5 separate regions of the Homo sapiens genome follow, and regions 2, 3, 4 and 5 are each linked to region 1. The links come from fine-mapping of genetic effects on gene expression. A gene starts in region 1. Each other region holds a variant in brackets. All regions are shown on one strand. Distances are from middle to middle. Region 1 holds the start of OAT (ornithine aminotransferase). Region 2 has its middle 150 kb from the start of OAT. Region 3 has its middle 38 kb from the start of OAT. Region 4 has its middle 150 kb from the start of CHST15. Region 5 has its middle 47 kb from the start of OAT.

What was found.
Region 2: its variant is fine-mapped to the expression of OAT in monocytes after R848 (Quach 2016, PIP 0.95).
Region 3: its variant is fine-mapped to the expression of OAT in whole blood (TOPMed, PIP 0.99).
Region 4: its variant is fine-mapped to the expression of OAT in monocytes (Schmiedel 2018, PIP 0.95).
Region 5: its variant is fine-mapped to the expression of OAT in whole blood (TOPMed, PIP above 0.99).

Annotation. Positions count from the first base shown.
Region 1 is chr10:124,416,151-124,422,613 of GRCh38, forward strand. It overlaps OAT (ornithine aminotransferase), which reads right to left and starts at 2,773. Exons shown (of 10, transcript NM_000274.4): 1 at 2,723-2,773. RefSeq lists silencers at 2,333-2,872, 2,815-3,474 and an enhancer at 3,448-3,962.
Region 2 is chr10:124,263,597-124,270,059 of GRCh38, forward strand. No RefSeq gene overlaps it. Among named protein-coding and RNA genes, the nearest start is that of OAT, 150 kb to the right of the region's middle. RefSeq lists an enhancer at 6,208-6,463. The variant G/GA (reference allele first, on the strand shown) is at 2,934.
Region 3 is chr10:124,378,107-124,384,569 of GRCh38, forward strand. No RefSeq gene overlaps it. Among named protein-coding and RNA genes, the nearest start is that of OAT, 38 kb to the right of the region's middle. RefSeq lists an enhancer at 1,210-1,927. The variant C/T (reference allele first, on the strand shown) is at 2,776.
Region 4 is chr10:124,242,909-124,249,371 of GRCh38, forward strand. No RefSeq gene overlaps it. Among named protein-coding and RNA genes, the nearest start is that of CHST15, 150 kb to the left of the region's middle. RefSeq lists an enhancer at 4,621-5,121. The variant T/G (reference allele first, on the strand shown) is at 3,815.
Region 5 is chr10:124,368,764-124,374,643 of GRCh38, forward strand. No RefSeq gene overlaps it. Among named protein-coding and RNA genes, the nearest start is that of OAT, 47 kb to the right of the region's middle. The variant G/A (reference allele first, on the strand shown) is at 3,005.

The DNA of each region.
Region 1 (6,463 bases):
GGGTCCTAACACTGCAGGCCACTTGTTTTTATGCCTATAAGTCTATACTCTAAGCTCCTTTAAAAAACAGTAAAATTCACTTTGCATTCCTAGAACCTAGCCCAGGTTGGGCATCCTGTGGGCCTTTATCAGATAAAGAGGTCAGTCTTACTTAGGACTCCTGAGGGAGTCAAGGTAGCAAGTGATCAAGACCATGGGATCACCTATCCCTGACCAGGTTGAGTCTAACTCTAAGAGGGGGTGTTCACTCTCTGACCTCATCTAGAATAACTCATCTCTTCATCAAGAGTTTACTTCATTAGATCTAATGGCCTTCAAAGGTCAAAATAATGTGTTCCAGGCAGCTATCATGCATCTACCTGACGCCCATACTCAGGTCCTGGAAATGAGAACAAATTGCTCTTGGCAAGCTAGAATTCTAACACTGAAGGTTTTATCCACGTAATTAACAGGGTCCTTCAGGCTACCATTACTCCCTCCATCTAGCCCATCCATCTACATTAGAACATACCTACAGTAGAATTTCCACAAAAGGCTGCATTTTGAAGTTAATTTAGCCTATACTCTTAAAAACTATTTTCTTACTCTAAAAGAATAGTCGGCGTAAAGTTGTCCAAAAGCCACTTAAAATATTCAACTTGAGGAGTAAATTTGTTCTTGCTATTTTGACAAATATTTACTTTTCCTGAGGTAACCATTCACAAATACAGGCCTTTAAAAAAAAAAAAAAAAAAAAGTTCTACCAACAGAAGTCTCTTTGACGTAATCAGTATTCTGGCTAAAATTCAAGCCAAGTGCATCATTGGCAAACAACTAGTTTTACTACTGAGAAAGGACCGGGGTCAACTACAGCACATCCTCCACACACATCCAAATTCGTGCATTCATCACTATTTGTAAATGTTTGAGATTTGAAAGGTCCTCAAGAACTCACTAAAGGGCATAAAATATGCACACAAATAACTGTAATAAAGGCACGCTATGGGGATAATACATATTAAGACAGCTGCTTTGAGGGAAAAATGTCTTTTAAAAATGTTTACTATTTAAAGTTATACTGGATTTTTCTTTGGGGGGGGGATGCAAAACTAATCTTAAACACCATGAAAAACTGTAAACCCAAAACTATAAGCTTTTTTTTTTTTTTTTTTTTTTTTCGAGACGGAGTCTGTCGCCCAGGCTGGAGTGCAGTGGCACGATCTCAACTCACTGCAAGCTCTGCCTCCCGGGTTCAAGCAATTCTCCTGCCTCAGCCTCCCGAGTAGCTGGGATTACAGGCGCGCACCACGATGTCTGGCTAATTTTTGTATTTTTAGTAGAGAAAGGGTTTCACCATGTTGGCCAGGCTAGTCTCAAACTCCTGGCCTCAGGTGATCCGCCTGCCTGGGCCTCCCATAATACTGGGATTACACAGGTGTGAGCCACCGTGCCGGGCTAAAAATAAGCTTTTTAATTTAACGCTCGTTTTTATGAAAAGATTCATCTAAAGACAGAACCAGGATATTCTAATGAAAGGAGTCTATTGTTATTTCACATGGCTAAGAGCGATTGATTACAATCTAAAGAACAGTTCCGGGGTTAACTGAAAGAACTAGCTTATCCACAGAAACCCTTTCAATCCCAGAAGGAGAAATTTAGAATTTGGAAACTGAACATTAGTCATTTCTTAAGGTAAAGCCACTTCATTCCAAAGTCACTGTCTGTTCGCCCTTAATTTATCACCGTAATTTATCTAAGAGGTAAAACTGAACACCGAAAAGGTAAGATGTAGAGTGACAAAAGGAGACGGTGGGTCACAGGGCGAGTGCCCAGGTGACTTCGGGCCTCAGTCCTCTCGCCAGCAAAGGGCGGACAATGACCCCTCCCGTCCCGCCCGGGAAGGCGATCGAGGAAACGCACTGGCCAGGCCCATTTACTGATGCTCAGCAGGGTTTGCAAAAAGCCCCCAACGGGAGGTTTTCATGCTGAAAGTCCTGTTGCCCCCCCATCCCCCACCATCTAATTAACCTGCACGTTACTGTAAGGAAGGTTCTGCTTCCGTAATTTTCTTTATTTCGACAGAGGCTGGAGAAAAAAAATCATAGGCTGGAAGAGGGGAGCGATGGGCAGGCCGATCTGCAGGGCGCAGGAGCAGGCCGGGAGGACCCAGCCCTCCAAGGCTGCATCAGCGCCCCCGCCGCGTGACCAGGGCCACCGGTTTACTGCACAGCTCCCCCGTCCCCAGAACGCAGCCTCCCCGCCAACCCCAGGAACCAAGGGTGCCCAAAGGCCTCCTACCCGGAACCCCGGGGCGCCTCGGGGTCTCTGGGCCGGGTGGGCCGAGTCCTGGCCTCCACAGGCCGCGAGCGCAGGGGGCGGCGGCTCCGCCCGGTCTGGCAGGCGGGGCTGCCACATCCTCAGCCTCTCCCTGCCGCCCGCCCGTCGGCCGCTCTGGGCTGGAACCAGGACTCCGGCCTGCAAGCCGTGGGTCGCCACGCCCCTGCCCCCTGAAGCTGCGCGCCGGCCGGAGACTCCAGGGCGCCCGGGTCCGAGCCGCCCGCAGAGTAAACGGGCCGCTGAAGCGGGGCTCGTTCCCCGGCCGAGGCCCAGCGCGCCCCCTCAGCCAGCATCCCCCGAACCCGGGCCGCGGCCACCCCGCGCCCGCCCGCCTCCCCCGCCGCTGTCAGGGAACCCCGGCCAGGGCCCGAACCAGAGCCCCAGGACAGCGGCGCCCAGACGGTACCTGACAGCGCCTGAGGACAACCGGGTACACGCGGCGTCTATGAAGCGCAACAGTGACGCCGGAGAGTCACTGCAACTTAAAGGCTGATTCTGCCCCGCCCCCAAGACACCCTCGCCGCTCATTGGCTGGGGCGGAGGGCAGGATACCAATCGCGTGGGTCCCGTCCTCCGCCCCGCCCTCCGGCCGCGCATCAAGGATCTTTGCTCCTCCCGCGGATTCGATCCGCGCTCGCGCCTCCTGAGCCCGCCGGCCTGTACCTGAGCTCAGGCCCCTCGGTCGCCTCCTCTGGCGGGACGAGAAGAGTCCTTGTCCGCCCTTGCTGACGAGAAGACTGAGGCCCGAAAAGGAAAAGTCTGTTGGGCCCCCCACTGCGCGGGCCGGGTGTGGCTGGAGGCCGAGAGACGTGAGGCTGGACCGCCCGCCCTGTGCTCCTGGAGGGAGGGACCAGCCCCAGCTCTGCCCCAGCCACAGCTGCGGGAGCCCCATGCCCTTGAACCCTGATGCGCCGCGCGGCTTAGTTGTGCCTCTGAATCCACCTCCAAAAGTCGTCGCTGCCTATGGAAAACACACTGCCCACCTGTTCGCAGCTGCTGTCAGATAATTGAGTGGCAGCAACCCACTCACAGTACAGATTTGCCTGTGGTGCCCTCCACAGCCGGTTATTAAATTCAGAACACAAAATAGATATTCCGGGACAACCTCATGTTAGAATCGGAAGGGACTTGGACTTCACTTAGCCCACAACAAGATGTTAAATATTGGAAAACAGAGACCCAGAGAAGGAAAGCGACTTACCCAGTCATCCAACAGTAGGGGCAGTCTGGTCCTGTGTGCCCCTCGCCACCCCTCTCAGAGGGCAGGCGCTGGCAGCTGCCGGCACCACACTCCATTAGACCACAATGACCAGTCGGGGGCCCAGCTGGAAACAGAGGGCACACTCCAATGTGAACATTTCCTAAAACGTGGTGGTGGGGGCCCGTGGTTCATGCCTGTAATCCCAGCACTTTGGCAGACCGAGGCAGGAGGATTGCTTGATCCCAGGAGTTCCAGACCAGCCTGGGCGACACAGTGAGACCCCGTCTCCACAAAAAAAAATAAAAATTAATCTGGTGTGGTGGCACACCTATGTTCCCAGCTACTCCAAAGGCTGAGGTGGGAGGATCACTTGAGCCCAGGAGGTTGAGGCTGCAGTGACCTATGACTGCACCACTGCACTCCAGCCTGGGCAACAAAGCAAGACCATCTATCTTAATCAACCAATCAATCAATCAATGTAGGCAAGTAAACCACAAGGGATGGAGAAATAACCTGGGTCTCATGCACCAGCGAGGGCCATTATCCATCCTAGGCCCAACGGCCTCCAAGTGGGGTTTCCAGAATTCCAGAACCCAAAGAGAGGAGTGTGGGAAAGGCTATCTGGTCACCAAAGTCATCAGCAACTGCATGGGAAGGAGCTGGACAATGAGCATCTCCTGTCAGGCTTCCACATGGGCTGAAGCCATTAGGAGGCCAGAGGCCAGGGGAGCCCTTTAAGACAGCTCAGCCTCCTGGGACAAACAGCAGGGTGGAAAAGGGTGGAGACGGGGTAGGGGAGCAATTGGAAGACATCCAACATACATAACTGGCTAAGATAAGTCTTAGCTAAGCAGAAAGTAAAGTCCATGCTAAATGGTAGGGATAAGAAAGTGATATGGGTGCAGAGCTGTGAACAGCAGAGCCAGTATCTGCAGATGTGCAGAGCAAGACACCAAAAGGGATTCAGTCCCCCTGGGCTCCATCTGCCCTATACCAAGGTCACTCTCTCAGACTGTTGTGGCCATGGGCTCTCCAGAACTCACTGAGAGCAGAACATTGCCTTTTATTTCTTTCATGTTCCTCCACAGCACCCAATACAATGTGATTAACTTCCTGGAAGTTAGGTTATTCTGCCCAAGGGGTCAGAAAGGAATGGTTTCTCCATGGTCCTGCTCTATAAACCTGGGCAGGTATGTGGGGCCATGCCCAGCTCTTGGAACTCTTATAGAGCCCAAGACTCCCGAGTTATGCCTTGTCAAGGAGGAGCAGGTGAGTTCAGGAGAGGCACATGACACCCAGGATCCAGGGGTAACATAAAGTATGTTACAATGTCTTTGGGCTCACAGATAAGGTGCTCTTTAAGGAGTTTCATATGCAAGAAGTTGCTGGAAATGTCTGGGTTTTATCTCTTTCCTCTTATCAGAAAAATGCAATAGGTCCAGAAAGCATGATAACATTTTATGGTCTCTGTACTAGAGTTGTTTTTCAGCATAATGTGGCCTTGACAGAGAGACCTGAACTTGAAAGCTGCTTCTTTTCAACCAAGAAACAGAGCTGCTTTATTTGTATGTATTTTATTTGTTCAATCTAGAAACATAAAGGTAAAGTGCACATTACAAAGATTTTTGAGTCTCTAAAAACTATTAATAATTCAAGTAATTAACTATATGGGGACCATAAAACCTGAGGATATAAAGAGTGGCCCTCAGGCCAGGCACAGTGGCGCATGCCTGTAATCCCAGCTACTTCGGAGGCTGAGGCAGGATAATCGCCTGAACCCGGGAGGAGGAGGTTGTGGTGAGCCAAGATTGTGCCATTGCACTCCAGCCTGGGCAACAAGAGCAAAACTCCATGGCCCTCATAACAGACATCCAAGACCTAAATTCATTTCATCAGTTCATTCGACAAATGTCCTTTGAGTGCCTCAGGTGCCTGACCTTGCGAGGGGTTTCACATCATCAGGCAACACCATGTGAGTCCTTTTTGTTTGTTTGTTTGTTTGTTTGTTTGTTTTTTGAGACAGAGTCTCGCTCTGGCGCCAAGGCTGGAGTGCAGTGGCATGGTCATGGCTCACTGCAACCTCTACCTCCTGGATCCACCCATCTCAGCCTCCTGAGTAACTGGGACTTCAAGCGCATGCCACTACGCCCAGCTAATTTTTATATCTTTTTGGTAAAGATGGAGTTTCACCATGTTGTCCAGGCTGGTCTTGAACTCCTGGACTCAAGCAATCTGCCCACCTCTGCCTCTCAAAGTGCTGGGATTACAGGCATGAGCCACCATGCCCGACCCATATGAGTCTCTTCAGTAAGGAGGGAGAAGTTCCAGAAATGCTCCTTTAACAGATGTGAACAAAAATCTTGCGACATTGGTCATCTAAAAAAGCTGCAACTGTATTTTAAAAAAGGAAAGAATCATTGATTTTCTTATACAGACAACTCTCTAGTATTTAGTGGCCAGAAAAACAACGGGTGGGCTATGCAGATCTCTTGCTTTGCGTTGCTTCCTTTATTGTCCCACTCGTCCTGACTTCTTATTAGTATAGTCTGCATATACCTGGGCTTCAAATGATTAAAAAGGAAAATCCAAGCTGACAGCCAAGGAGGAAAACTGATAACGACACAGAGAAAATAAGTGTTTGGTGATTTTTAACCTGCAGGAGAAATTTTGTTTCCCAGATTACATTCACCCTAAAAAGATGTCTTCGCAGCAGAAGTCTGGGCAACATGTGTAACGCATCCTTCCTGCTCCCAGTGCACCAAGTCAGGACAGGTATTTAGGTCTGGTGGAGAGCAAACCTCCTTTAAGTCCAGAAAGGCAGGGATCTGGAAGGAGCAAGTTAAGCAAGGCATCGAGGACAGTGGGAGAGTGATCGATGGTAAACGTTCTGAACTGGGAATGATAGACAGAGACTCAGAAATGTTGCCGTTCGTCTATGGGTCCTCA
Region 2 (6,463 bases), 150 kb before region 1:
GAAAGACACCAGGCAAGAATTTCCACTGCTCTCTCTCTCTCTCTCTCCCTCCCCTCGCCTCCTCTCCCTCTTTCCTCTCTCCTTGCTCCATCCCTCACTGAGGCCTGTTTCTATCACCCCTGGAATGCTCTCCCATGTTGTGACCTGTCTCCCTGGAGAGGGACCATAATCATTTTAGGCCAACTTCTCAAATAGCCTCCTTTCCTTCTCAATCTCCAGTTAGCAGACACGGGGCAGTGGGACATTCACTGCAGAGGAACAGCTCTGGGTCGGGCTTTGGTGAAGGGGTTCAGAGGGGCACCTGTGGCTTGAGTCTACCCGCAGCTGTCTGGCAAAGAGAAGGGCATCCTGAGGTTGGCGGGGAGGTGACCCATAGGGACCACCTAAAGCCACCTGGACAGGAAGTTCGTTCCAGACCCTGAGAAAAGAAAGGAACAAGGTGTGTAACCCATATAGCATGTGAGCCTCCTTGGGCCTGTCCTGCTCTCCCCCTAAGAGGTCACTGGGTTTCCCACCCAAGGGCCCCCTCCCACTCCAAACATACCCACTCCCAGAGAGAAGTCCAACTCCAATAGCACTGGTGAGTCTGGCAGATTTCACTGAAATGTTCATGGGGAGGTAAAGGAAGAGATGACCCTGCACATCTCAATGCAAAATGTCTTTAAAATCCCTTGTTAATATCTCTGCGTATTCTCCGAGCTCTCCTCCTACTGCAGCTGCCTCATCCCAGAGACACATCTCTGCTCCTCCTCTTTCTCAGCCTCTGCTGCTCCACGGGCTCAATCTGGATCAGGGGCCACATGTGCCTGTCCTGTGGGCCAGGGGCGCATCTGATTCTGCAGTTGACTCACATTCACCGTAATGGCCTGGGGCTGTCTCTGCCCTGGGCCTGAGTCCTCTCTGCAGGTAAAGGTGTTCTTTATGATCGTCCAGTCCACACCATCAATGCCACACTTGCAGGCCCTGTAGCACCCTTCGGAGTGTGGTCCTTCAGCTGCAGAAATGCAGAGCTTCCTATGCCCAAGGCCTCCAGTGCTGTAGCAGGCTGGCACAGGAGAAGGTTTCCCCTACACTGAGCCAACAGTGGACCCTCGACTTTTGGAACCCAAGACCCTTGGAGAGCACAGAACAGTCTCCTCTTTTCCTCTAACAAGTCTTCAAACATCGAACATGCTTTTTCCGTCCTTCACTGACTCAGCTTCTCTCCAGGTGGAAGGTGGGACCCTGCAGTCCTTCCTCGCTGCCGGGGGGCAGGTCCCTCGACACCAGGGCCACCCTCCACGGAGCAGTCACCAGCTTGAGCTGCCCTTCTCCAGAGGTGGTGCCAAGTGGGCTGCAGGGATCTAGTGTGGTCCTGCCACGCAGAGGGCAGCAGTACTGCCCACTCGTTCCCACCCGGGCCCTGTTCCTGCCCACTTCTCCTCCCGTAGGCATCTGTCCCACCATGACAGTGAGGTCCCCGGCTCTCCAGGGCCTGTTGAGGTGCAGTAAATGAAGCCTACTCAGATCAGCTCACAACAGTGGACTTAAACCACCGGCATGGGAACACATCAAGGAACCCAAGAACTGAGGAAGTGTGGGAACGGGCAGTGGGGACCAGACTCTGCTTGGAAGGAGCCACTGCCTTCTCGAGCCACTGCCTTCTCAACCCCCACTCGCCCTACCCAGGGCTGTGCAGATCCTCACCCCCTCTCGGGCCCTCAGGCTCTCATCCTCCCTCTCCTGCAGATCTTCTGCCCCTGCACCTGCCTCAAACACTCCGATGTGCATGGCTGTCTCCATTCCAGTGCCACCATCCAACCAACCAACATCTCTGATCCAATCCCAAATTCCCTGGATTTGAATCTGATTGGATCCCCCTAGATCAAGCCCCCTCTCTCATCCAATCAGTGGTAGCCCAGGAGGGGCACGTCCCAGACATGGCCTTGGGGCCCTCCCAGTGGAGGGTGTGGGTATGCAGACCCCCAGCCATGTGCTATCTAGGCTGCTGACTCCATCCCTCCACCTCCCCACCCCAGCCCCCTGCACTCACACAGTAGACCCCTTACAGGACTTGTCCCCTTCTTCCTGAATCCTCTCCTCTGCCAAGATTGTCCCTCTCCCCAGTCAATGGATCTTGTTTTAATCCTAATTCTGGCTTCCAGTATAAATGCTCTCTCTCCATCCTGTGCTGTTCCTAAATCTGATGCCTGTGTCTGCTGGGTCCCTGGCTAAGCTGAAAACCACTGGCCTAGCCAAGGCTGGACAAGGCCTTGGTGGGGCAATGGTGGTTTCCCACCCAGGGCTCTGGAACCTGGAATTTGACCCACTGGACTAGAGACCTTGTTCCTGCTGCTGTTGCCCCTACCGGCTCTGTCCTTCCCACCACAGCCCTGCTCTCCAATACCCACCCCTGCCTGACTCCCAGCCCCAGCACAGTGCCCAGAACATCCGGGCTCCCCAGTGGCTGCCCCAGGCCCAGTTGCTTTCAGGTGGTGCTGTTCCACCCTCCCCCAGACCCGGGACACACCTCTGCCTTGGAGCCTCCCTGGGGAACCTTCCTAGAAGACAGGAAAGGACATTCACTTCCACTCGAGTTATCCTGACATCAAACCTGGCTGTGCAGAAAGAGCAGGTTCCTTCAGCTGGGGAACAGCCCTGCATGACGGAATTAGTGCCACTCCACGGCGCCTCCAGAAACCATGCCCACTGCCCACCAAGAGCCACGAGGAGTACACCGGGTCCTGAGAATGCACATCCCCTGCGGTGCAGCTTCCCCAGCCAGGAGCTTCGCAGGTATGCCCTACAGGGAGGAGGAGCTCTTCCACCAGCCCGGCAGCCCCCAGGTTTCAGGAACCATTTCAGCCACCTTAGCAGGGCTCATGTTCAAGTTTAGACTAACAGTTTCATGACCACATTTTTAAAAATTCTATTACTAATTCAGCTTCTATGGG[G/GA]AAAAAAAAAAAAGCCCAGCTTGATTTTCTAACTTGGTTTTTCAAGAAGCTGGGTAAGACTTCCCTATCTGACAGCAATGAGTAAATCATTACTCAGCACCTTGGAAGGACATTCTAGAGCTCCAGAGAGCTTTCGGGCCAGGAAGGTGTGCTGGGGAGCTGGACTCCTCTGACCACATTTTCCAGAAGTAAGCCCTTTACCTTGGTCTGCTCAAGGTACCGTGGTGTCGTGCAAGGGTAATGAAGGGACTGCGATGGAAGCCGGGCGGGAGACACGCCCTGGGACAGGAGGCTCAGGCCTCACTCCGTACTCTCTTCTCCACCAGCTGGAGGCCCTCCAATCTCACCATGCCCTAGGGACAGACAAACGGCATGTGACAGACACCCCCGGTGCCCCTCGAGGCACCCACCCCTGAGCCCACCTCTGCCTCAGCATCTTGGTGGCAGGCGCTAGCTGACCTCACACTCCCTGGCCCTGAAAGCATTGGTCTCACACCTGCCTCGTGCGTGTCTCCAGGCACATGGGAGTCTGCCCAGGCCAAGCACACACAGCTGGAAGTGTGGGGGTGAAGTCCCCAAGGGCAAACCTCTGACCAGGGGTGTCGTGAGCCAGTGGGTAAGCTGTCCTCTGCCCTTCCAGTGGACAATTTTGTCCCTACCCAGGAGGTCTCAATGGTGTCAAGCCTCAGGGCCCACAGCAGCAATCTCAACAGCCCTTGTGTTCGTGTTTCCTCCTCCTATTCCTACTCTCCACACTCCCATGCCTCCACTTTTTGGGATCTGCTCCGATAGCCCACCTGCACCCAAGTCTCAGGCCTGGCCTTCCAGGAACCCAAACTAAGATGCCATCTCTCTGCACACCACAGGGACACAGGGCCTCACGCGAGGCTGCCGCTGAGTCAGCTCTCCATAAAAACCTGCCAGAGGAATCAAGGAAGCTCCTGTGTCCTTCCTGGGAGGTGGTCCTTACAGGAAAGTCACACAGCAAATCTGTCATATGAACAGGGTTTCCTGACATGCAGGCCTCTCTCTGCCAGCCTCAAGCTTCACTTCAGCGAGTGCAGTCCCCCTAGGCTGGCGACACTGAGCGCTTCCAGCTGTCAGAGCCCATGGCATTGGCTGCCATCCATGCTGCAATCCACAGGCTATTAAGGGAGGCCCAGAGAGGCCAGAGCTGGGCCTTGTCACTGGCCCACAGAGTTCCTGTTACTACAGTCACCACCCAGACACTCATTATCCCCCCTCTGAGGCCTGCAAATGGCCCTGCCAGGGAATGTGGGGGTCATGATTGCTTTTTACTCAGTATCCGACTCAGGGCTAGGACATGGCTGTCTCTGAGGCTGGAGGTACAGCAAGGAAGGTTCCCACAGGTCCACATCAGAGGCCTGGACACAGATGGGGGCACAGCCCAGACCAGTGCACCCTTCCAAACCCCTTCCAGAAGAGCCCATTGGAAAGAAAAATTGGTCCCTCTGGGGACCCAGGAATTTGGACACAAGTGTCCCCGAGCAGGAGGCAGGGGCACCAGGAGGCCTGCACAGGAGGAAGGAGCCTGGCCAGAGGTCCTGAGCCCAGGGAACCCCTGCTGGCTCTGTCTGGCAATTCCTTTCTCCCTCCCAACGTGAAATGACGGGCTTTGGGCAAGACCCCCAGAGGTGAGTCCAGCTCCGACAACTGTTTCCAAAAACACAACCCCAGAGCACCAGGTCTGGGAGACAGACAGATGCTCCATGGACAAGGTGTTCATTGGTCTAATGTCCTTGAGAAGCCCTGCACACAGGAGGCCCCTCTTGAAGACTGACTTGGCTAAAGGCCCTGAGATGTCCTGCAGCACAGAGCCCTGTTTAACGAGTAGAGTCCAGACTGTCCCTAACTTATGTGACCACAAAAACCTTTTTTCCAAGGACATCTCCTCTTTCTAAAGCACAGACTGAGCACTGGCAGTGCAAGCCATTTGATTGGCTATTACCAAGGTTGCTCCGAGGAGTCTGTCTCCTTGGGATGCAAGGTGGAAAACATCCGCATAGAAAAACAGGTGTCTCCGGATGCTGTTCCTGAGACAATGCTCTAAGGAACAAATTAGGGAAACACCTGAAGCCTTGAGGGGAAACTTGTTTCCACTGGTGATTTATCTGCAGGTGGTCAGGGCGGAGATGGAGGCATCAGTAGCTGCCTGGCCTTCAGCTTTCGAGTCCCTTCTCCCACCAGTGAAAGCAAGGGCTGGGGGAAGACCTCCAGAGGCCAGCCCAGCTCTGACAATTATTCCCCAAACCATGACCCCAGCGGGGTAGAGATGGACAAGTTGAACCCAATATGTCCCAAGTGAATCTTACCTTCCTGGCCCCAAATCTGCCCTTCCTCAGGTGTCCCCATCTCAGGGAAAGCCACTCCCATCTCCCCAGTTACCCCAGACAGAAATATGAACATCATTGCCTTCCCACTCATAACACACCCCATTGCCACTCCCATCTCCAAGTCCTATTAGTGCCACCTGTTAAACAGCTCCCAAACACATCCCCTCCTCCCCATTTCCTGTCACTAGGCACCTTTTACTGAGTGCCTACTATGTGCAGATGCAAAGCCACCACCTCCATTCTGCCCATCATCTCCCGCAAGGAGCATCTGTTACAAAAGCTTCCCCCAGGCAGAGCTCTGCCTGCTCCTCTCCCCTTCAAGCTGCCACGGGAGCCTCCTCCCAAATACAGAGTGGGCCCGCTCCCCTGGGGCCATGTCCAAATTCCTAAGAAGCACACATGGCCCCACATGACAGGGCCATGGTGTCTGCCTCTGTGGCCCCTCTGACACTCATCTTTACCTCGACGCTAAGTGCTGAGAGTGCACACAGGATGAAGATGACAGACTCTTCTGAACAGGAGGGTCCTCTGCGCTCCTTCTCCAGCAGAGGCCAGCGTGTTCTCTGGTCACCTCCTTCCATGCTGTCTTCCCTATGGGCCTCAGCTTGTGCCTGAGAGGCCGGCCCCTCAGCTGCTTCTTGGAGCCTCTCCTGAGCCAGACAGGAGCCCGGGTTTGCCTCCTATGAACATGGCTCGCTTCTTCTTGTGATAATCATCCAATCAACAAACTGCCAACAAAAGTGCCCTACCGCACGGGGCTGTTGTGAGGACCAGCAAGGTAACAGATGCAAAGCGCCATCCTGGCGCATAGTGTGTGCTCAATATATGTTCACTCTCAAGAGTCAGCCCATCTCTGGGCAGTTAACATCTCTGAGCCTCAGTTTTCTTGTCCATAAAATGGGAATGATACCCATACCTGGATCAAGGAATTATTGTGAGAATAAACGCTATAATGACCCTTCAGTGATGTAACTGGCACAAAGGCTCCTGTGATTATTATTACCTCCTACCTCCACCTCACTGCCCGCTGTGGGGAGAGATCCCAGCCCCACTTGTACTAAGAGCTGCACACAGGATGAAGATGACAGACTCTTCTGAACAGGAGGGTCCTCTGCTCTCCTTCTCCAGCAGAGGCCAGCGTGTTCTCTGGTCACCTCCTTCCATGCTGTCTTCCCT
Region 3 (6,463 bases), 38 kb before region 1:
TCTCTGTCTCAAAAAGGAAGAAAGGAAAGAGAGAAAGAGAGGGAGGGAGGGAGGGAGGGAGGAAGGAAGGGAGGGAGGGAGGGAGGGGATGCAGAGGGCAGGGGAAGGGAAGAATAACTGGGCACTGGGCTTGTCCTCTTGAAGACTGCCAACTCCTGCCCGCCCAACACAGCCTAGCCCCAGAATGTTTATTGCAAACCTGGTGGCGTGGAAACGCAGATGCCATTTGGGGAAAGAATCAGCCTTCACGGGAGGGAGAATGCAGTGAGGAGGGATGGAGGAGGCCTGAGTCCAAGAAGGAAGAAGGTTATGTAGACGAGGTCAGATGGAAAAGGGTCAGGACAGATGCAAAGAAGATGCTGGGTGTGGCCAGTGGTGCTGACGCCCCTCTTGGCCCACCCAGGCTCACCAGGGGCAGGTGGACAGTACACCTGCCCACCCACGCAGCATGAGGGCCTGTCTGCTCGACATCTGCAGAGCCAAGGGTGGCCAAGAATGTTACCCTTCAAGTAACCATGGAAGGTAAGTTAACTTCAGTCCTCCCAGACTCCATGGTGCCCACAGTGCCCAATTTTGGAAGGATAGTTATGCAAGGATATGGACAGAAGGCCCGGAAAGAAAGCTGCAAGCCATCTTCAGGAGCTCTATCTGCCAGACGGGATTATGGATGATTCTACCCTCCTTCTGTGTATTTTTCTATTATTAAGAGGTTTTCAAGGAACATGTATTACTTTTATATCAATTTTCCTTCAGCCCCTAGTTCACTCCAAGCAGATCTACTTGATGGGCAAAGCCACAGCCGAGGGAGTCTGAGCTGGGCAAGGCCCGCCCATTGGCACCCGGAGGTATTCCGTAGGCAACCAACGAGGCTGCTTCTCTTGGCCTTTCTGACACCGAGGGCGTACCTGAGGCTTGAAACTTCCAAGAGGTTTAGTCATCAATCTCTAGCCTCCCGCTGGCTGTTCCCGATTGTCAGCAGAGATCTCAGCGTGGGGAGCTGGCAGGCAGGCATCCCTCATTCAGGAGGCATTTGCCAAGAACGGTGAGGGGGGAGTGTCTCGCCCCCTTTAAGTATCAAAAATCCCAGGCGCTGTGTGTACAATCCCCTCCCTGGCCTTTCCAAGGGTGGCAGGAGTCCTAGTCCAGTGAAAAGACTGTTGAAGAGGGAGGAGATTCCCTGCTGCTGAGAAGGCCTTGCAGGGAGCAACAGGCTTGCCCCAGGGGCCGCTGGTGCCAGCCAGGACGGCCCATAGTGGATCCAGCTTCTCCCCCAGTCCATTCAGTTCCACAGCACAGGCCGTGGAGGGCCTGCCCAGCCCCCTCACTGCAGGAGTGCAGATGAGTGGCAGGTGGCCATCCAGTGCCTCCTGGCCCTCGGCTTGGGGACCAAAGGGGTTTCCCATAGCTCAGTGCACGTGCCCCACTCTAAGAGCCAGATTCACAGCAGGTATCCAGGAAGGTTTATAATTGGGTACCTTCCAACTGATATTCTTCATCTATTTGTTCAAACGTATTTGTCGATTGCAGGAAGGAACCAGTGCTGCCTCCACTGTGTGGAGGGTAAAGGCTTGATGACATGGGGCTTTCCAGCCCGGCAACTGCCATTGAGGCACTTTGAGAGGCTGTTGATTTCTCTCCACTTCCCAGAGCCTTGCACGGTGATGGGGGCGGGGTCTTTTTACATTTTGCCAATTCGGCTTATTTTCTGTGGTGCTGTTGTGTCCTCAAAGGTTGAGGTCCCGGGGAATTTTGCCTGGCTGGCTCCCTTCAATCTACTCTGCCCACTCTGCAGCCAAGCAGAAGCAGCCATGTCCCACCACCAACCCCTGGGCCTGACTCCCTTTCCCTTGAGGGTCACACTCCTCCCAGGCTGCAAGGCCTGATTTAATGGCACCTCCTCCCTGCTCCTCCCGACTCCCCTGCTCCTCCCCTGACTCCCCAGCTCTTCCCCACCTCCTCTGTGCTCTTCTCCTGACTCCCCATCTTCTCCGTGAGCCTCCCCTGACTCCCCAGCTCTTCCCCATCTCCTCCATGCTCCTCCCCTGACTCCCTGTGTCCTCTGTGCTCCTCCCGACTTCCCAGATCCTCCCCATCTCCTCGGTGCTCCTCTCCTGACTCCTCAGCTCCTCCGTGCTCCTCCCCTAACTCTCCAGCTCTTCCACGTTCCTCCTCTGACTCCTCAGCCCCTTCCCATCTCCTCTGTGATCCTCCCGACTCCCTAGCTCTTCCCTATCTCCTCCATGCTCCTCTCCTGACTCCGCAGCTCCTCCGTGCTCCTCCCGACTCCCCAGCTCCTCCCCTGAATCCTCATCTCCTCCATGCTCCTCCCCTGACTCCTCATCTCCTCTGTGCTCCTCCCAACTCCCCATCTCCTCCATGCTCCTCCTGACTCCCCAACTCCTCTCTGCTCCTCCCAACTCTCTATCCCCTCCATGGTCCTCCTCTGACTCCTCAGCTCCTCCCCATCTCCTCCATGCTTCTCCCCTGACTCCCCAGCTCCTCTGTGCTCCTCTCCTGACTCCCTAGCTCCTCCCAGCTCCTCTGTGCTCCTCCCGATTCCACAGCAACTCCGTGCACTGCCCTGACACTCCAGCTCCTCCTCTGATGCCCCAGCTCCTCAGTGCTCATCCCCAGCTCTGTCCCAACCACTTCTTCATCCTGACTTGTATGAGTTTTGCTGTTTTTGTCTCTCCTCCCCCACGACTTTGAGATGCTATCTGTCTTTTCTTAGCTTTCATTCTCTGGCCCCTAGCTCAGATCCTGGCACTGTAAACA[C/T]CCAATAGACCCTGGTTTGATTTCGAATTGCTCATCAATTTCTGAAAATAATGCACCTCAAGCTTTTCTTGGCAGTTGTCTGCAAATTGATTCAAGATGCCCAGCCAGGCAGGGGCAGGTGTGCTGGGGAAATCAAGGAAACCAACATCCATCCTGCTGGGAAGGCCTCCCACACTCTGACTCATCTGGTTTTCCTTCACACGTGTATTTGCGGGAAACGAACTTCTGTGCTTGAATAAATATGCGGTTCTTTGTAAACATCAACGTTGTAAGTGCAATAAATCACTGGAAACAAGAGGCACCTCTCGCGGTGGAGAACAGGAACGGCTTTCGCAAGCACTATCGGAAAGAAGCAGCGACATCAATAAAGCCGCCCGTCAGAGCTGAGGAAAGAAATCAAAGCCCTTCCTGTGGAGGACACTGTTTAATTGATGTCGCATTCAGGGGATTATGGACTATGATCAATGCAAACTGGACTGACCGAGAGAACCCTGAGCACGGAAGGTTAGCTGGGTGTCCCGGGCTCCCAGCCAACCATGTCAGAGCCAGAATGGACACCCAAGGACAGTAAAGACAAGACCCCATCTAGAGTTGGAAGCACCCAGAAGCCTCTGTCATCACCCTGCCCCAGCAATGCCACAGATGGGTGCCCCCTGGCAGAGCCACAGAATGTGTAAAGCTAAAATGAGTGTCCCGGCATCCAGGGTTCTCTCTGTAGTACCCGCCTCAGCATCCCTGGCCTCATACACAGCAGGTACTCAATAAAGGTGGCTGAATTATGGATTCTCAACTCCCAATGCTGGCAGTGGGTCAGCACTGAACACATAATCCCAACTGCATGGTCTGGTGCACTCCAGGAAAACAAACCGGTCAACAATTGTCACTAGAGGAAGTCAAGACTAGCTCAAGGTAGTGGACGGTACATCTCTTCATCGACTTGCTGATCCAATTGAATCTTCTTGCTTTGATCACTGAAACTTTGCTCCAGGGGTTTTCAACCCTGGCTATGCTGCAGAAGCACCTGGAAAGTCTGTTAAAATATGCATGTAGGCCAGGGGAAGTGCTTCACGCCTATAATCTCAACACTTTGGAAGCCCAAGAAGGGGGGATTACTTGAGGCCAGCCTAGGCAACATAGCAAGACCTCATTTCTAAAAAAAAAAAAAAAAAAAAAAATTTTGGCCAGGTGTGGTGGCTCATGCCTATAATCCCAGCACTTTGGGAAGCAGAGGCGGGTAGATCACCTGAGGTCAGGGGGGTTCGAGACCAGCCTGGCCAACATGGTGAAACGCTGTCTCTACTAAAAATACAAAAATTAGTCGAGCATGGTGGTGCATGCCTGTAGTCCCAGCTACTCCAGAGGCTGAGGCGGGAGAATCACTTGAACCAGGGAGGCAGAGGTTGCAGTGAGCCAAGATCATGCCACTGCACTCTAGCCTGGGTGACAGAGCAAGAATCTTTCTCAAAAAAAAAAGAAAAGAAATTTTTTTTTCTTTTTCTTTTTTTTGGAGACGGAGTCTTGCTCTGTCACCCAGGCTGGAGTGCAGTGGCACGATCTCGGCTCACTGCAAGCTCTGCCTCCTGGGTTCACGGCATTCTCCTGCCTCAGCCTCCAGAGTAGCTGGGACTACAAGTGCCCACCACCATGCCTGGCTAAATTTTTTGTATTTTTTAGTAGAGACGGGGTTTCACCATGTTGGCCAGAATGGTCTCGATCTCCTGACCTTGTGATTTGCCCACCTCAGCCTCCCAAAGCTCTGGGATTACAGGCGTGAGCCACCGTGCCCGGCCAGAAATTTTTTTTTAATTAGCCAGGCATGATGACACACACCTGTAGTCCCAGCTACTCGGGAAGCTGAGGCGAGAGAAGTGATTGAGCCCAGAAGTTTGAGGTTACAGTGAACTATGATCACACCACTGCACTGCAGCCTAAGTGACAGAGTGAGTGAGGCCCCGTCTCCAAAAATAATAATTATATATGTATATATACACACGTATGTGTCGGGCCCACCCCAGACAAGGCATACAGATGTTGTAAAAGTGGCCACATGTCCCTGGAGTGCTCCAAAGACTGAAGACCTCTAGCCTCACAGAGGGCCAGAGTGGTGGAACCCTGCCCCAGCTCTGCCGCCGACATCATGTGAAGTTGGTGCTAGGCAGACTCTTAGCTCCCTTGTCTGTAAAACAGACATCATAAAACCCTAAGGGACCAGGCGTGGTGGCTCACGCCTGTAATCCCAACACTTTGGGAGGCTGAGGCGGGCGGATCACCTGAGGCCAGGAGTTTAAGACCAGCCTGGCCAACATGCTGAAACCCCGTCTGTACTACACATACAAAAAAAATTAGCCAGGTGCGTGGCGGATGCCTGTAGTCCCAGTTACTCAGGAGGCTGAGGCAGGAGAATCACTTGAACCCAGGAGGCAGAGGTTGCAGTGAGCCAAGATCACACCACTGCACTCCAGCTTGGGCAACAAGAGCGAAACTCTGTCTCAAAAAAAAAAAAAAAAAAAAAAACTCTAAGCCCCCACTGACCAAATAGGTCCACCCCAAGCACAGGAATCCACTCTACAGACTTACAAAGCAGCTGCCAGTCACAAATATTATTTTTATTTGTGTAAAGAAGCATGAATTTGCTCCACGACACTCAGACTCAATAAATATCTCATTTGAAAGTTTTTCTAAATAAAATTAAATCTAGCTGAACTCCCTGACACACCCCAACCTGGCCACCTTGCCTGACTGAGGGCCCTCTCCCGACTCAAGCACAGTCTATGTACCACTGAGTCAGCTGCATGTGCAGCCCCAGGCAGGCACCTCACCCACACCGCCAGCCCCTCTGGCCAGCATGTGGAATCAACAGCTATCACTCTGAGTCTTTGCGATCCTAAAAATGACAGACATAGTTCAGGGTCTTTATTTTTTTTTTTTTTCGACCCTGGGTGACAGGGTCTCACTCTGTCACCCAGGCTGAAGTGCAGTGGTACAATCGTGGCTCACTGTAGCCCCAATCTCTTGGGCTCAGGTGATCCTCCTACCTCATGAATAACTCAAGATAGTGGAGGGTACATGTCTTCATCTGCTGGCTGATTCAGTAGGCTCATCTACTCAGCCTCCCCAGTAGCTAAGACCACAGGTGCATGCCACCACTCTGGCTAATTTTTTTTTTTTTTTTTTTTAGAGATGGGGTCCCACTATGTTGCCCAGGTTGATCTCAAATTCCTGGGCTCAAGCGATCCTCTTGCCTCAGCCTCCCATAGTGCTGGGATTACAGGTGTAAGCCGCTGTTGGGCTAGCTCTCCGGTGGCTGAGGAACTCACATTTATTTCCAGAATCTCCCTGGCCACTGATCCTTCATTTAAAACCAAAGCAGAGGCAAGGAACCAACAAAGTTGAATTCCTCTGCAATCAGGACACCTGGTGGCCCTTCTGGGCTCCATTCAGCCTCACAGGACCCCAGCCAAGACTTCTCTCACCAGAATGAAAAACCTGCCAAGCCTCGGAGGGCAGGATCCCAAGGGACAGCCTAAGAAACAGCAACCCACTTTTTCAATCCAAACTGTGAATTGCTTTAGGAGCAATCTGCTAGCTAAGCAAAGCTTTTCCATTTTTCACCTGTCTAAGAGCATTCTTCTGAGTCCTTGAGAGGGGACCGATGGGAATCCCAGCTCTCCCTTCATCCTCGTCACAG
Region 4 (6,463 bases), 170 kb before region 1:
CTGTTCTAAAGCACTTGACCTGCATCATCGTGCTGAACCTTCATAATAATTCTGAGGAGGGAGAAACAGGCGGGCCCATTTCACAGATGAAGAACTTGAGGTTCACAGAGGGTAGGTGGCCTTTCCACAACCACTTGCAGGTAGGCTGGAACTCAAGCCCGGACAGTGAAAGCACTCAGACACCACCCCCCCACTGACCCAGAAGAGCAGTGAGGCGGGGCTCTCTCAGTTCTCTCAGGACCGATCCTCACGGCCTCCCTTCATCTAAGGTCAGGGAAACACTCAAAGGGTAGACGTTAAGGCTCTGGAGACATGTGACCAGTCGTGGGGCTCTGTGCATACCTGGCCAAATCTCCTGATCCCACTGTGCCTCAGTTTCTTCATCTGTAAAAAGAACATCCTAAGAGTACCGACCTCACAGCATTGTTAGAAGGACTGAGTTAGTTAGGACCACGCCTGACACAGCACATGGGTGGACAGAATGCTGGACCTGAAAGACATCCACGTCCTAATTCCAGGTCCTGTGAAGATGTTCCCTTACATGGCAAAAGGGACTTTAGAGATGTGATTAAATCAATGATCTAGAGACCGGGGTGGGGGGAGGGGGCAGTTATCCTGGACTAGCCAGTGGGCCCAGTGCAATGTAATCCCATGGGTCCTTACAAGAGGGAGGCAGAAGCGTCAGATAAGGAGAAGTGAGGACAAGCAGAGGTCCAAGCAAGGCAGGCTCACGAGCCAAGGAGGGCCACCTCTAACAGCTGGGAACACCAGGAATCGGATTCTTCCCTGCAGCCCCTAGAAAGAACCAGCTCTGCTGACACCTTGACTGTAGCCTAATGGACCAATTTGGGGCTTCTGGCCTCCAGGACTGCAAGATAACAAAATCATGTTGTTTTAAGCCATTACATTTGTGGTAATTTGTTCCTCGCATGATAGGAAGCTGACGCAGGGCACTGGCGTTATCATTATGATTAACTACAGGAGCGCTAGTGTGGGCTGGGCCTCTCACTGTACCCCGGTGATAAGTCAGGCAAGCCCTGGCCCGAGAGGACCCCTCAGACCAAAGAGAGACAGAGGCGCATCCTCGGAACAGCGGAGCGCAGGAAGGTTGTGACTGTGACTGGCGGGGCTGAAACAGTGGGGCTCAGAGTAGGGCAGCTGCTCCACAGACAGGCTGGGGAGGAGCTTCAGCTCTTCTGCTCCGTTCACACCTCACCACCCGGCCTGGAATCGTACCCACCTCTACCACCCAGTTGACCCAGGACACAGCCCAAAGCCCCAGCCGATCTTCTTTACTCCCAGGCCCTGCCAAGTGACAGTCTCCTCCATGTCCTCCACCATCTTCACACGCCTCTGGCATCGTGGGGTCCCCTCCCGGGATGGGCTGAGTTATTTCTCATTATGCAGCCATCGTCCATTTGACCGTGACTGAGCAGCGCTTGCTGGGAACTCGGTGGAAGGGGATCTGGATTCAGGTCCGGCTCTGCCCGGGGAGGGTGGGCCGGGCAGCCCCACTGCTTGTCTAGAAGGCAAGGTGAATGTCCTTGCTGGTCTCCAGCACTCCTGGAGCTCCGGCCTTCTGCAGGGCAGAGTCTAAGCATCTAGTGTGGTTTACAAAGACCCCCAGGATGTGGCCCCGCCACCTCTATGCCCGGCTCACACCCACACATCTGCCCTGGGCAAGGGCTTGCTTTTCTGCTAACACGCCAGGGCGCGTGCCCACCCTGTGATGCTTGGCCTCACTGCCCGCCAGCCCCCACCCATCTCCTGTCCCCTTTCCCCGCTGTAGCTAGGTGACCCCATGGAGCTCCCGCAGGCCCCTGCATCTCGGCACTCACCACCCAGGCTGTCCTGGACAGTTGACCAGAGACCCCCACCAGCAGTGGGGAGCCCCCTGCCTGGACCCCTGGAGCTTGGTAGAGCAACAGGCACACAGGAAGTGCTTTGGAAATGGTGAATGAAGGAACAGGCAGGGGTCAGGCTTGGATGTCCCCATGTCCCACCGTGCCAGCGCTCATCCTGTTATCCCTTAACACTCCAAAGGTGAGTCCAGAGGCCCCACCTCAGAGCTTAGCAGAGACATGGAATCTCAGCCCCACCCAGACGAGCGGAATCAGAATCTGCACTTCAAGAAGAGCCTGGCGACTCCCAGGCAGGCTCGAATTGGAGAAGCTCTGTTGCTGGATGGGAAGGAGGGCTTCCCATCAGGACATGCGGTCCCTGAGCTAGTAGGGTCTCGGAGAAGGGAACCTGCCAAGGTCATCCAGCAGAATGTTGCTAGCTGGAGCCAGAAACCTGGTCTTCAGGCTCCAAGTGCACTGCACCTTTGAGGAAGGTGACCCCAGAATACAAACAGGAAGGTGACCCCAGAATACAAACAGGAAGCTGCCCTGCCCAGCCAGCGGTCTTCTCTTCCTCATCAGGACCTTCTCTGATCTACTTGGGAGCTGGGGAGAGCAGGTAGATGGTGGGCCCAGGGAAGGACAGTGCTGCACAGGCCGGGTGACCAGGGAGGCTCCCTGCCGATTGCCTCCCTAAAGTGGAAAAGACACAGCCGGGCTGGGCGCGGTGGCTCACGCCTGTAATCTCAGCACTTGGGGAGGCTGAGGGGGGCAGATCACCTGAGGTCAGGAGTTCGAGACCAGCCTGACCAACATGGAGAAATACCATCTCTACTAAAAATACAAAATTAGCTGGGCGTGGTGGTGTAAGCCTGTAATCCCAGCTACTCTGGAGGCTAAGGCAGGAGAATCACTTGAATCCGGGAGGCAGAGGTTGTGGTGAGCCGAGATTGCTCCATTGCACTCCAGCCTGGGCAACAAGAGTGAAACTCTGTCTCAAAAAAAAAAAGGACACAGCCAACAGTGTGGGGCCTCCTCCCTCTGCCATTGGCTGCTCTCAGAGCCAGAGGATGGACAGATGCAGGGACTGCAGGAGGATGCTGGGGGTTGCAGGGGCTTCTGCAGGAAGCACAGGCTGAGCTCCAGGCTGTACCAATGGCAGCGCCAAGAGCCTTCCCAGACAAACTTCCTCCCCTCAGCCAAGCCAGGGGATGTGCGCCTGATGGTCACTGCCCAGGAAGGCACCTCAGCTGCAGAACTAGGACCAGAGGATGTTTCCAGGCCGAAGAGCACGTCCTCAGGCCAAACAGGATGGCTTCCTGTGTTTGCTGATGCAGGATGTGTGCCCCTCACTGCTGGGAATGTCACTGACTCGTCACAACAGAAAAACAGCAGATAAATCCACCTTCTGTCCAACCTGGAGTGATCTTGGAGAGGTCTGCATTCAGCCATGCTGTGCCTGCAGATGCACTGAGTGGGGCTGTCCCCAAGTCCTCCGACCCTCCCGCCGGACCTCAGGGAGCCCCGGCTCTGAGGCCAGTGCCAAGTGCAGCCCGAGGTTGAGGGACCGGATCTTGGAGGCTGAGAGCCCACTCCATCACCTGCCTAACACCTTCATGCCTCAGTTTCCTCATCTGTAAAATGGGGCTCTGAATAGGACCTTCCTCATAGAGAACCATGGGAGGATTGATTGAATGAGAGCTTTTTATGTTAATGATTAGAACAGTGTCTGGCATAGTACACACTTAAAAAAAAAAAAAAAAAAAAAAAAAAAAACCAAGACCGGGCAAGGTGGCCCACACCTGTAATCCCAACACTTTGGGAGGTTGAGGCAGGCAGATCACTTAAGGTCAGGAGTTTGAGACCAGCCTGGCCAAGACAGTGAAACCCCATCTCTACTAAAAATACAAAATATTAGCTGGATGTGGTGGTGTGCACCTGTAATTCCAGCTACTCTGGAGGCTGAGGCAGGA[T/G]AATCACTTGAGCCCGGGAGGCGGAGGTTGCAGTTAGCTGAGATTGTGCCACTGCACTTCAGCCTGGGTGACAGAATGAGATTCCATCTCAAAAACACATAAAAAAAAAAAAAAAACCTAGATACTTCCATTATGATGATTACCTTATTATCTCCTTAGTTCCCAAACTGGAAACTTCTCATTCCTCTTCTCACTCACCCTCATGCTGGCCCTTGCAGTGGGAGACAACAGGAGACAGGTCACTGTGGTCACTGTGCCAGCTCTCCACCATGCACTCCTCCACTGCAGGGGCCAGCAGCTTCTGAAGTGCCCCCCCGTGATCCCCACCCCCTGGCATTTATGTCCTTGAAAGTGGACTTGTCTTAGTGACTTACTTCTCATGTGTAGGACCCAGCAGAAGTACCAGAACATCACTTTGGGATTAGGTTATAAAAAGACTGCAGCTTCCGTCTTGCCCTCTCTTGGATGGCCCACATTGGGGGAAGCCATCTGCCATGTCATGAGCCAGCCCTATGGGGATGTGTATGTGAATGACCTCCCCAACCAAACCTTGAGAAGGCTGAAGCCCCAGCAACCCCTTGACTAAATCATCATAAGAAACCCTAAACCTGAACTTCTTCGGTAAGCTGCCCCTAGATTCCTGACCCACAGAATAGTGAAATAAATGTGTGCAAATAAATGTGCACCTAAGTTTTGCGGTAATTTGGTATGCGGCTATAGACACCTAACACACTCAGCAAACTCCTACTCATTGGTCAAGACCCAGGTGAAATGCCCCCTCCTCCATGAAGCCTTTCAAAGTACTTTGTACTTGTACTTATCCCATGATCAGTTCTCACGCTGTTCTGTCATTTCAGTTTACAAGACAAGCCTGCTCCCACCATGAGGCCTTGATCTCCTGAAGGGTAGGGACAGGGTCTTGGTCATCCAGGCCAAGCACAGAGCCTGTCAGTCAGTCAGTCAGCAGGACCTCAGTCATTGTTTAGTCAAAGAATAAGTGACTTACACAGCAGCCGCCACCCTACAGGCCACCATCTTGCACACTTCCCTTCTGGCTCCAGGAGGCTGCCTGGTGTGCTCCACCTGGAGTCCACAGGCTGGCCAGCTCGAGCTTGGGCCCAGTCCTTACATCTGCCCCAGAGGAGGTGACAATGATTTCAAAGATCATACCAGCGCACACCCAGCCTCCCACCCAAGCCAGCATGCCCCGTCACCATGGTCAGTAAGAGTCCCCAGGGCAGGGCCCAGAGGGGTAGAAAGGAGACAGCTTTCTTGCTGGATGTGTCTGTCACTCCAAGTGTGGGTTCCTTCCAGTAAGGAAGGACAGCTCTCCATGCCCTGCGCAGGCAGTGAGTGGGTGAGAGAGAGAGGAGTGAGCGGGCAAACCGACAGATGGACGGATGGATGGGCGGTGGGACCACAGACTGGATTCCTCTATAGACACGCCAGGCCTTCAGCTCAGGTGCAGCACAGCTTCCTGGCATGCGTGCTGGACTAGGGACTGGGTCCTCACATCCACATCAAATGCCTGCTCCCCAGGGACACTGGGCAAGTCCTCTCCCTGTGTGTGCCATGCCCTTTGACACACAGCCTCAGGTCATCCCACAACACGCCCAGGACTTGCCATCTCACAGATAGGGAGAGTGAGGTGGACGGAGGCTGAGCAGCTTGTTCAAGGTCATGCACACAGTAGAGCCAGGAATCCCTCCATGGCCAAGTGGGCCCCTGACACTAGATGCTGGCCAGGGTCACCAGGCGACCTGGACATCCCTCAGCCTTTCACAACACCACTGGAGTGGGTTGAAGGGTGATCTCCAAAAAGACACGTCCATGTGATAGCAGAACCTGTGATTGTGACCTTATTGGGAATTTTTTTTTTCTTTGCAAATGTAGTTTAAGGACCTCAAGATGAGATCATCCTGCTTTAGGATGGACCCTAAATCCAGTGACACACGTCCTTGTGAGACACAGAAGATACACAGAGGGGAGGGCCAGGGGAAGACAGAGGCAGAGACAGGAGTGAGGTGGCCACAAGCAGGGAAGGGTGACTGCCCGCAGCCACCCCAAGGTGAAGAGGCTAGAAGGGGTTCTCCCTGCAGCCTCCAGCGGGGCGTGACCCCACCGACACCTGGAGTTTGAACTTCCGGCCTCCGGAACTGTGAGAGAATGGATTCCTATTGTTTTTAGCCACCAACTTTATGGTGATTTGTTGCCACAGCCCTGGTAAAATAATGCAACACCTTACATAGAAAATGGCTATTTCTGCAGCACACTCAGGTACACTGAGGCTGCTTATGCTGGACACTCCCAGCCTGGGGGTGTTGGCTGCCACCCCCGCAAGCCTCACCAAGGGCTGAGATATCAAAACACCCAGGTTTTGGCACCTGATAAAACACCATGTCACCTGAAAAGCCCTGGCTCAGAAACTCCGCCAGGAGCATCCTGAAGTGTCCACGTCCCTCTCGCCCACGTTTTTGGTGCACTGTGACTCTAATATGCTTCATTGGTAGTTGATTTTCCCCCACTGATTTTAAGTGAGGGTTTGGTGGAAATGACAGCCATGACCCCCACCCCGATCAGAGTGGACAGCTGGCTCAGGGTATCCTGGGGCTTGGCAGAACTTATGCAGCAGTGTGTGACCTGGGGGCA
Region 5 (5,880 bases), 48 kb before region 1:
TCTGTTGTCCTGGTTTTTGCTCATCAAAGTGGCCATAACCAGGGTCCAGTGTAGCGAGATGAGCCCTCCTGTTGATGCAGTTCCAACCCAGTTATGTTGCCCAGGGTGGTCTCAAACTCCTGGGCTCAAGCAGTCCTCCTGCTTTGGCCTCCCAAAGTGCTGGGATTACAGGCATGAGCCTGCCCTATTGTTATTAATAACAGTGACAGCTACTACATATCCAACATTTATTAAGTGGTTTAGAGAATTATGTTTTTCCCTCACAAATAACCTATGAGAGAAGAATGTTGATATCTATAGAAAGCTGAGACACAGGGAGGTTAAGAAACTTACTGACGGTGCAACCTTAGGCAGATAGTGGCACCAGGTCTAAAACATGGGCCTCATTGGCAGCCAGTGACCACATGCCTGGTCACTGGGCAGGAGCCTGTCGACAGGGTGGGTTTGTGTGAGCTGGCAGAAACAGCTTTGGACTTGGAATAGGGACACCCTGGTTCCACTGAGCTCTGACACTCACTTTACAACCTCTGGACATCTCCATGAAATGGGGACGCAGACCCTTTCCCTCCACTTCCCAGGGCAGTGAGGGGGATTGGAGAGGCTGAGCCAGGGGAAGGGCTTTGCTGGCAGTGGTATCCAAATAATGGCCCCCAAAAATGCCCAGTCCTAATGCCTGGAACTGAGCCTATGTGACCGATATAGTTCGGCTGTGTCCTCACCCAAATCTCATCTTGAATTGTAGCTCCCATAATTCCCACATGTCCTGGGAAGGACCTGGTGGGAGGTAACTGCATCATGGAGGTGGGTCTTTCCCATGCTGTTCTCGTGATAGTGAATAAGTCTCATGAGATCTGATGGTTTTATAAAGGGGAGTTCCCCTGCACAAGCTCTCTTGTCGGCTGTCATGTAAGATGTGTCCTTTGCGCCTCATTTGCCTTCTGCCATGATCATGAGGCCTCCCCAACCACGTGGAGCTGTGAATCCATTAAGCCTCTTTCCTTTATAAATTACCCAGTTTCAGGTATGTCTTTATTAGCAGCATGAGACCAGACTAATACAGTGTCCTTATATGGTAAAAGGGACTTCACAGGTGTGATTACATTAAGGATCTTGACATGGAAGATTATCCTGGATTATTATTCAGGGGCCCAATGTGATCACAGGGGTCCTTATAAGAGAGAAGAGTTGGGGCTCAGAGGCAGAGAAGGAGATACGACCACAGGAGCAGAGGCCAGAGAGATGCTCTTTGAGGACACAGGAAGAGGCCAGGGGCCAAGGCCAGGGCAGCCTCTGGAAGCTGGAAAAGGCAGGAAACAGACTGTCTCCTCGAGCCTCTAGAAGGAACCAGCCCTCTGATACCTTGATGTTAGTCCGGTGAGACAGATTTGGACTTCTGACCTCCAGAGCTATAAGATAATTAATCTGTGTTGTGTTACATCACCAACTTTGTGGTAATTTGCCATGGAAGCCACAATGAACTCATAGAGTGGCTCAAACACCCATTCATTTGGGAGCAATTCCATCCACAACTGTGAACTCTGCGGATTTCACAGAAGTGTCTGCTTTGGTCCGGGCAAAATGATTACAAATTCTACTCTTGCAGAACAGAAAAGAGGCTTCAGATAATTCTGTTCTACTTCCTGCAGAGGGTTTAAAGAGTAGGAGCTGAAAACTATATAACTACTGTAAACGACACCAGACTCTTCCTGCTGCCCCCAAATCAAACATATTTTCTTCTCGGAGAGTGATTTTAAGGTGTTTTCTGACAAAACCAGCCCTATTCAGGTGGAGGCCGCTGCCCACCACCAAATCACCCCATGTGCCCATGGACTCTGCCACTGGCCAGGGCCAGGCTGAAATCACAGCTCAGGGAAAGGAGCCACACTGGCCAGGCAGGGCAGCCAAGGGCTCCAGGCTTTGACAGGATCGAGGGTTCGAGGCTGCGGGGCAGGGAGCATCCCAAGAGCTGTGAATATAACAAGTCATCTGTGCACACAGGATGCTGCCCTCTTATATTAATAAACCTGACGGAAATTGTATAGGCTGTGGAAGGAATCAGAGGCAAGCAGACGCTTCCTCATCAAACTGCGCACACAACAGAAAACGGAGTCCACGTGGATGTTCCCAAACCAGGGGAGACTGTCAGTGCTTGACCATAGGGTTTGTCCTTCTCCACCAGGGTCCAAGCACAGGTGGACTTGGTAAGCAGAGCCTCGACAGACCTGCCCGCATACTGACACCCCTGCCAGGGAAGCCCCTCAGTGCAGCGGGGGGCAAAGCGAAAACGGGAAGTATCAAGATGAGGATTCCAGTCCCTGCTGTGAGCCAAGGCCGTTTCTGGGCCTCAGTTTCCCCAGCCACAGCCAGAATCAGCTGGGGTACGTGACCCAACCTGAAGGTCTGGGCTTCCCTACCCAGGTCCCCAGGCTCAGGACTAGCTCCACCTCTCTCTGCTCACCTCCTCACAGATGTGGCCCCAGCCCAAGCCAGAGCTTCCCCAGCTCTCCCCACTCCCTGCTTCCTCTACCCCAGATTCTGAAAATGGAAGCTCCTTTCTGCTTGAGGCTCTCCAGCTCCTCCTTGCTCCTCCATCTCCTGGAAGTCCCCCCAAACTTGAACTTGTTTCTTCACCAATGGCCAAAGGAAACTTGATTCCTAACTCTCCTCATCCCTGGGCTTTGCTCCCTCTTCTTTGTTTTCTTTGGAATCTTTGCCCTCTGTCTTAGTTCGGGTTCCCCCGAAGACAACCAGAGCTAAGAACTTGGATGCAGGTAGTTTATTTGGGAGGCAGCCCAGGAAGCACAGGGAAGATGGAAAAGCAGAGAGGGTGATGGGGGTTGAATCATGTCCCACAGAAAGATGTGTCAAGTCCTGACCCCGGTACTTGTGAATGTGACCTATTTGGAGATAGGGTCTTTGCAGTAATTAAGGGTTAATGTCTGATATGGTTTGGCTGTGTCCCCACCCAAATCTCGACTTGAATTGTAGCTCCCATAATCCCCAC[G/A]TGTCGTGGGAGGGACCCAGTGGGAGGTAATTGAATCGTGGGGGGCGGGTTTTTCCTGTGCTCTTCTCTTGATAGTGAATAAGTCTCAAGATCTGACGGTTTTGTGAAGGGCAGTTCCCCTGCACTTCTCTCTTGCCTGCCACCATGTAAGACATGCCTTTGCTCCTCCTTCACCTTCTGCCATGATTGTGAGGCCCCAGTGCTGATGGCCTCCCAGGGTTCAGGAATGTCCAACTGGACTCTGTTTTCTGTTGTGTGGGCAGTTTGATGAGGCAGGGTCTGCTTGGCTCTGATTCCTTCCATGGCCTATATATTTCTGTAAGGACATAGAGCCATGTGAAACTGTGAGTCCACTAAACCTCTTTCCTTTCCCAGTCTCAGTTTATGTCCTTATAGCAGTGTGAGAACAGACTAAACAAGGTCTTTACATGTAGATAAGTTGTAAGTTAGGATCCTGTGATTGGGATGAGCCCTAAATCCAATATGACTGGTGTCCTGATTTGAAGAGGAGAAAAGACACAGACACATACACAGAGGAGCATGCCCCATGAAGGCACAGTCACAGTGGGAAGACAGAGACAGAGATGAGAGTGGCATAGCTGCAAGACCACAAATGCTGAGCACTGCCAGCAAGTACCAGAAGCCGGGGAGAGCATGGCCCTGGGCTTGTTACTCAAAGCCACCCAGTTTGTGCAGCACCCCTAGGAAATTAATACTCCATATACATATTAACACGCACACACTCTAATGGTTCTTCTCCTCCAACTGAGACTTGAGTGACACATGTCATTCTCTTTGGCCACCCAGCATCCTGATATACCCCTTCCCCACTTCATGTATCAGAGGAAGGGAGAAACCCCAACCCATTATAAAGCCTGAAAATGCCAGAAACCTACCTTCACAGCCTCCCTTGCAGCCAGGGAAACAGACATTTGATAAGGGTTCTGCCAATTAGATGCATGTGAGAGCCAGTAACAAAAAGTCTGTCACTGTGTGGATGCCAGGTTGGGGGTGTTGGGGTAGCAGAGATACCCACTGTCAGTTCTAGAGGCTTCCAGAAATGGGTTGAAGCAGTGATGGCCAGTCCTTACACTGGTGGAGTCAGCAGCACATAAGGGTGTCAGTACCCATCAGAGGTCTCAGGGTATCTCCCCTGGTCCTGCAAAGTGATTTTGAACATTATTTCCAGGCTACATAGCCTTCAAACCTTGTTGTCCAACCTATGCAGAGATCCTGTGAGCTGCCTGATATCCCTTAGTACATTTCTGGTTTGCTTTAATGAGCAGAAATTAGCCGCAGCTGCTTGCAGCTATGCTCCTTGATTGGCATGCAATTTCGTGCACACAGCTCTTCCCACTTTTGCTTGCAGCTCCTCTAGGATTCTGGTGGGAAGCTTTGGAGTGAGCCAGGAACTGGTCTCGAGGTGACCTCCCACTTTCAAGGCTGGGCTGCTGGCTCTCTCCTCTTTCCCATCAGCAAAGTGAGAGAGTGGTTTTGAGTATAGGCTTCAGCGGCCACAGTCATGGGTTAAGATCCTGGCTCTTTGGGGGCTCTTGGGCGAATTATTTAGCCTCTCCGACTTTTTTTCCTGTTTTTTTCTCTCCCCTCCTCAACTTCTCTGAACTTTTATCTGTGAAATGAGAATAATAATACTGAGGATTTGTGATCAACCTCAGGATTTGTTTTCTCCCCAAAAATGCTTCCTTCCTTCCTAGTGATAGGGCCTGTTCTTTCTTGGGGTGAATTCACTCGTGACTCATTCAGGGATGGGGATGGGTCTCCAAGAGGCTCATCTAAGTGTCCCCAGGATGTTTCTGGTTAAACAGGACCAACTGTTTCGGGTGGAGTGGGTGTGAAGGTTGAGGTGCATCCTGGTTGCAGGCAGCTATCTCTGCCATGATGTGGAGAGTGCCTCTTGGGGTGACCCAGTCTCTAAATGCCAGCTGGGGACAGGGGGTTCTGATGACACCTTCCAGCTCCTGGGTCCAGCTGGGCTTGAAGTTGCATGAAAATCAGCCAGTCAGTTTTCTTTTCCCTTCAGCTGGTGTAAACTGGGTTCTTCATCTCCATCGAGTCTCTGAGCAGGATTCAGTGAGAAAACACAGAGTTGCTGAGCATGGATCCCAGGGTAGAATCTGCCAGGTTTTCTTTTCCAGGACACATGAGGATGCGAGTAGACTCCAGGTGGCTGCCAGGAGTGCCCCCAGCCTGCCAGGCATGCCCAGGCCTCAATCTCAGGGCTAGATAAAGCTTAGATTCAGTCTGGGGCCCTGGCTACACACAATTTTGTATTCTACTTCACACTGTGTTGTGGTCGTTTTTCCATATCATCAATATTCTTTGAAGGCCTGATTTGTCATGTCTAACAATCCAAAATGAGGATTTCTCATAACTCTTTTTAGCCATCCTCTACTGTTGGACATTAAATTTGTTTCCCATTTCCCACTTTAGAAGTCGTGCTGTTAAATCATGTTTGTGTACAAGTCTTTGACTGTATTGTAAATTACTTTCCTGGGATGGATTTCTAAACATGGAATGACTAGGTAGGTCATGGATGTCTTTAGAGCTCTTGATACCTTTGGAGATGCTCAGTTTTGAAAGAGCATCTGCACCCTTTTTTAAATGCATCATTCCACTGTCAACCAATCTTCACTGCCAGAAATTCTTCCACGGCTACCACTCATTTAGTGCTGTGGGCTAGGTACTGTTGTAAGCACCCATTTACAACAGCCAATTGCATGGATAACATTATTGTCCAGTTTTAAAGATGAAGAAGCTGAGGCTCAAAGAAGGTTTGCAACTTGCCGAAGACAGCACATCTAGAAAGAGGGAAAGCAAGGTGTGCACTAGGTTTGTCTGCCTAAATCCTATGCTGT